Regions from separate parts of the Homo sapiens genome. Here region 2 is linked to region 1. A link means that fine-mapping ties the variant in region 1 to the expression of a gene that starts in the linked region. Tissue or cell type: aorta. Region 1 holds a variant in brackets; the other region holds the start of a gene. All regions are shown on one strand. Distances are between the middles of the regions.

What was found. PIP is the estimated chance that this variant, and not a neighbour inherited with it, causes the effect.
Region 2: CHST1 starts here. The variant in region 1 is fine-mapped to the expression of CHST1 in aorta (GTEx, PIP 0.94).

What each region holds. Positions count from the first base shown.
Region 1 is chr11:45,751,912-45,754,591 of GRCh38, forward strand. No RefSeq gene overlaps it. Among named protein-coding and RNA genes, the nearest start is that of LINC02690, 1.6 kb to the left of the region's middle. The variant T/G (reference allele first, on the strand shown) is at 1,271.
Region 2 is chr11:45,664,491-45,667,170 of GRCh38, forward strand. It overlaps CHST1 (carbohydrate sulfotransferase 1), which reads right to left and starts at 1,132. Exons shown (of 4, transcript NM_003654.6): 1 at 688-1,132.

The DNA.
Region 1 (2,680 bases):
AGGGCCACAGCGACAAATTAAGATCCAGACCCACTTTCAAAGGAGGAGAACAGATATTTCCACATCAGTACGAGACTTGCTGGAAGTCTTCCCTGACGACGGTTTGGCAGTGTTCATTAAAAATTTTAAGTGGATGTTCTCTGTGACCCAGCAATCCCATTTCTAAGACGCTGCCTGCAGAAATATTTGAATCTGAAGGTGATCTTTGCAGCATTATTTACAGCAGTAGATAATGGAAAACAACCTAAATGTCCCGTAATGGAGGCCAGTTACATCAATTTTGGTACATGCATACACGTTGAAAATGCAAAGGCGTACGGGCGGAAGAACACATAAGGAACCATTAGCAGCCATTACCCAGGAGTCGCAGGACTGACCAATAGGGTTAGAGAAGGGGGGCGTTTCACTTTACTTCTCAACCATTTGGAGATGTTACAAGAGTGCGCTTCCCTCCCGCCCCCAAGAGAGACGGGCTCTTGCTTTGTCACCCAAACTGGAGTGCAGTGGCACATCACGGCTCACTGCAGCCTTGACCTTCCAGGCTCAAGTAATCCTCCCCTCAGCCTCCTGAGTTCAGCCTCCTGAGTAGCTGGGACTATAGGTGTGTGCCACCTGCCCAGTTAATTTTTTGTATTTGTTTAGTTTTTTTGTTTTTGGGGGTTTTTTTTTCCTTTTTTTGAAATGAAGTATTACTCTGTCATCCAAGCTGGGGTGCAGTGGCACTATCTCGGCTCACTGCAACCCCCGCCTTTCGGGTTCAAGCAATTCTTGTGCCTCAGCCTCCTGAGTAGCTGGGATTACAGGTACCCGCCACCACGCCTGGCTAATTTTTGTATTTTTTAGTAGAGACAGGGTATCGCCATGTTGGCCAGGCTGGTCTTGAACTCCCAACCTCAGGTGATCCACCCGCCTGGGCCTCCCAAAGTGTTTTTGTATTTTTTGTAGAGACGGATTATCGCTATGTTGCCAGGGCTAGTCTTGAACTCCTAGCTTCAAGCGATCCTCCGCCTTGGCCTCCCGAAGTGCTGAGATTACAGGAGTGATCTACCGCGCCTGGTTTACTTTTATAACTTAAGGAAAATGCTAAATGTTTGGGATGATTGGTCATACAATGGGATTTATAGTGATGAAAATCAAGTACGTTAACTGGTTATGATACAATGCAAAAAAAAAAAAAAAAAAAAAACCAGCACAGGCCAGGCGCGGTGGCTCATACCTGTAATCCCGGCACTTTGGAAGGTCAAGGCGGGTGAATCACTTGAGGTCAGGA[T/G]TTCGAGACCAGCCTGGCCAACATGGTGAAAACCCGTCTCTACTAAAAATACAAAAATTAGCTGGGCATGGTGGCCAGTGCCTGTAATCCCAGCTACTCGGGAGGCTGAGGCAGGAGAATCTCTCACACTCAGGAGATGGAGGTTGCAGTGAGCCTTGATTGTGCCACTGTACTCCAGCCTAGATGACAGAGCAAGACTGTGTCTCAAAAAAAAAAAAAAAAAAAAGCACAAAGGCACTTACAATAGGAGCATCAAGGGAGAAGAGGAGAAGTAAGATGGGTGGGAAGAAGTTAGGTCTTGCAGGTTGCAGAAAATGTCATCATCAGGAGAAGGAGGAAAGGCATTTTAGCTGAAGAAATGGCAAAAGCAAAGGCTAGGAAGAGTAAAACTTCCAGTACTCTAGAAAATCCCAAGTGGTCTCTGTGGCAGAGGTGAAGAGATGTGACACAGACCTTACACAGGAGCAGCAGGAAGCCATCCCAAGTTTGAAAGTAGGGAAAGGACATGAGGAGAGCAGAACCTACAAAGATTTCTCCAGGCAGACGTGAAGGAGAAGTACTAGAGTCCAGGAGACACCTTAGGAAGCTACTGTAATCACACAGGAGTGACACGAGGAGGACCCCACAGGAGGGTGGACGGAGGGGAGAGGGAATTACAAGAAGTATTTCATATGTAAATGGCAGGAGTTTATGATGTTTCTCAATCCATAGACTTACTTTCTAGAGCTAGATGAGGTTCCTCAGCTTACAGATGGGGAAACCGAGGCACAGCTAGGGGAAGTGAGGGTTTCCAGGACAATAGGTTTATGACTTGAAGTTTTCTCTGGGCCTCCTGGGAGAGGAGGCTCAATCCTTCCAAGATCTGACCTTTTTTAACTCTTAATTCAGACAATTCCCAACTGAGGGGGATGGGCAAAGGTGAGGCTGTGGCCCAAGAAACCCCTGCAGGAAGAAAAGAGGGAGGAAGAGGACGACCCCCTTTGGTATCTGGATGCTGAGAGTCCCACTCTGAGATCCCAGCCTCCTTAAAGAGAGCACTCTTGGTCCCAGACTCGAGCATGGCTGTCCTGCAGGGAGCTTGGGGCAGTGCTCAGGCCCTGGGAGGGGTGTCTGGTGGTGGGCAAGGTGCCACCACGAGCTGGTCCAGGAAGTGCCTCTGTCACGTGCGTGCCTCCCCAGTGTCCTGTCCCACACCTGGCACCATGGCAGCACTGGGACAAGCACAGCGCTGGACTCAGGAGTCAAGAGCCCTGGAATCTACTGCCTTTCTGTCCTGCCACTCAGCAAGCTGGCCTTGAGCTTGCCACTAGCACTCCCATGTGATAAGGCCCATGAAGGCATGAACTCACACTGAGGAATGCTATGCTAAACACGGCCCTCTTCCTGGAGAGGAAAATGGAAAAGCCCCAG
Region 2 (2,680 bases), 87 kb before region 1:
GCCTGGCCTTTTAACGCCCAGCATCCCAGCTAGGGTTACTCTGGGCTGTTACCGCGAAAGCCAGCACTGGGTCCCTGGAGCCTGGGAGGGGCTGATCCCCGGGTCCTACCCAGAGAAGAGCGGGAGGGTTGTTCCGGCTTTCCGTGGTGGGCTCTGCACCATCCGGCGGCTCCGGCCCCACAGGGGCCCAGCTCATCGCAGCGGTCTGGGTGCGGAGGCCGGGCCAGGGCTGGGAGCAGGAAGCAGGGAGCGGCGCCCCCGCCTCCGGGTGCAGCTGGGTTTGGAAAGTTGGTGCGGGCGCGGGGACCTCAGGGTCTCAAGGCGCCTCCGCAGACCCGAGCCAGGCGGGTCGTGGGACGGTGAGCCCGGAGCAGCCCCTGAGTGCGCTCCGCAGCGGAGGGGAGCCAAGCGCCTCGGGGGCCACCGCGCGTCTCAAGTTTGCTGCCCTCCTCGAATGGGGGCAGGGAGGGCTGAGGTGATCGCGGCGCTCACCGGCCACCAGCCCCGGCAGCCCCTTCCTGCGCCCAACACGCCGCCGTTCCTCGCCGCCGCCACCCCTCCGCTCACCGCCGGTAGCTGCTGTCCCCGAGCGGAGGGGCGTCTCCCACCGCGCCCGCGCCCCTCCCGGCTGCTGCGGCGGAGTGTCCGCTCCCGCCCGCCCCGGAGCCCGCGGGGCCCGGCCAATACCTGGTCGGGGACGCGCCGGGAGCAGCTGCAGCGCCCAGCGCCGGCTCCATCCTCGGGTCTGGAGTCAGGGTCGCCGGGGACCCGCGGGTGGCGGCGGCGGCAGCAGCCGCGGCGGCATCCTCCGCCTCCCGCGCCCTCCTCCTCGGCCTCCCTCCTCCCTCCTCTTCCTCCGACTCCGCGCGCGCCTCACGGGCCCCTCTTCATGGCCCGGGGGCGCGAGCCCGGGGCGGCTCGAGCAGCTGAGTGCGTTCTCTCCGGCCGGACGCGGGACCCGGGGCCGGGGCTCAGGGACCCGAGAGATGCCGGGACAGGGGCCGGGACCCGGAGCGCCGCAGCCCCGGGCGCCGGAGGAGAGCAGCAGCCGCAGGCACCAGAGCCTCTCGGAGCGCCCGCCCGCGTCCCCGAGCCAAGAGCAGCGGCGGCAGCGGCGGCTACAGCTCCGAGCGAGCGGCAGGCGCTGCGGTCCCGGCTCCACCCCCGAGCCGCCCGCCCCTTCTCCTCCCCACCCCTTCGGCGCGCGCCTTCCCGCCCCCCGCGCCGCCCCAGCCGCGAGCGCCCTGGACACCCACTCCGCAGCCAGGCTCCGGAGCCCGCCCCCACCCACCCGCCGGGGGCAGCCACGCCCACCACCCGGACTTCGGGCGGCCGGCGGGCAAGGGCACCGGCTGTCTCTGGCACCTCTCCGCGTAGCCTCCCTTCCCCTTACCCCCGAGGGCGCTGCTGGCCGGGCCGCCAAAGCCTTTCGCCCCCCCAGCGCCCCTCGCCGCGGAAGTCCTGCTGGAGTCCCAGCCTGGCCCCTGGCCCAGCTGTCCTTTACCTCTTGCCCAGCCAGCGGCACAGAGGGACTTCAGAACCCAGAACTGAAGCCAACCATCTCTGTGTGCAATACCCTGACACACACCCCTAGCCTTTCCTCCTTCCCCGCCCCTCTGCTTCTCAAGTGTGGGGATGAATCATTTGTCCCCGCTGCAGTTGTCCCTCTTGGGCAGGGTCAGGGGGTGTCTTAATGGGACCTTAGAGTGGGTTTGCTGGCTGACCGTCTTCTAGGCCGCTCCTCCACACTGCCCACCTTCTTCCTACCAGACTGCCCCTGGCTTTCTAGGTGGCAATCTGGAGCCACCACTGCTTTTATGGATGAGGGATGGGGACAGAGCTGGCCAGCCGAGCACCTTGGGCCTGTATCCTCTGCACAAATATTGACTGAGCATCTTCCACAGGCCTGGCCTTCATGGGCACCAGGGACTGGTTGATGAACCTCTCAGAGTGGAGTGGAGGAGAAGCAGGGTGCATGAGCAGAGCAATATCATGTGATCAGTGGCCCCTGGGCTGGAGAGGACGGCCAGGAGTCCCAGCTCTGCCACCACATCTGACATGACTGAGGCTGCCCACCCCAGTGGCCTGTTTCCTCATCTGGAGACTAGGAAGGTGCTTTGTCTGGCTGAACCTCTGATGCTCCTCAGTTCTGACCAAATGGTTATTTCTGAAGCAGAGGAACAGTCAGCCTTCATCTCCACCTGGAATCTCTGATTCCCGACTATAGCTCTCCATCACTCCTGGACTGGGGCGCAGAGAGCAGTGGATGGCTTGAAAACTCCAGGCATTCTGGGAAAGCCTCGTCCCCGATGTATGGGCAAGCAGCTGCTGCCTCCATCCCACACAGTGAAGCACAGCAGAATGGTTAGCACAGCAGTTTCCTGGGTCAGAGGAACCTGCTGTGTGTTTGCTGGGTGACTTTGTGTGAGTGATCAGCCTCTCTGCGGCTCAGTTTCCTCATCCAGAAGACAGAGGTACTGATCCTCACCCTGTAGGGGTGTTGTGAACACTGGATGGTAATGTGTGTAGAGCATTCAGCAGTGTCTGGCAAGGGGGTGAGTACTTAATAATTGCACATTGTTGCGTTCAGGGTAGCCAGGAACAAACATTCACTCACTCGCCAAGAGGAGAACATGACAGCTGCACTTCCCTGGAGGACTGGGCTCTCGGGTCATCAAGA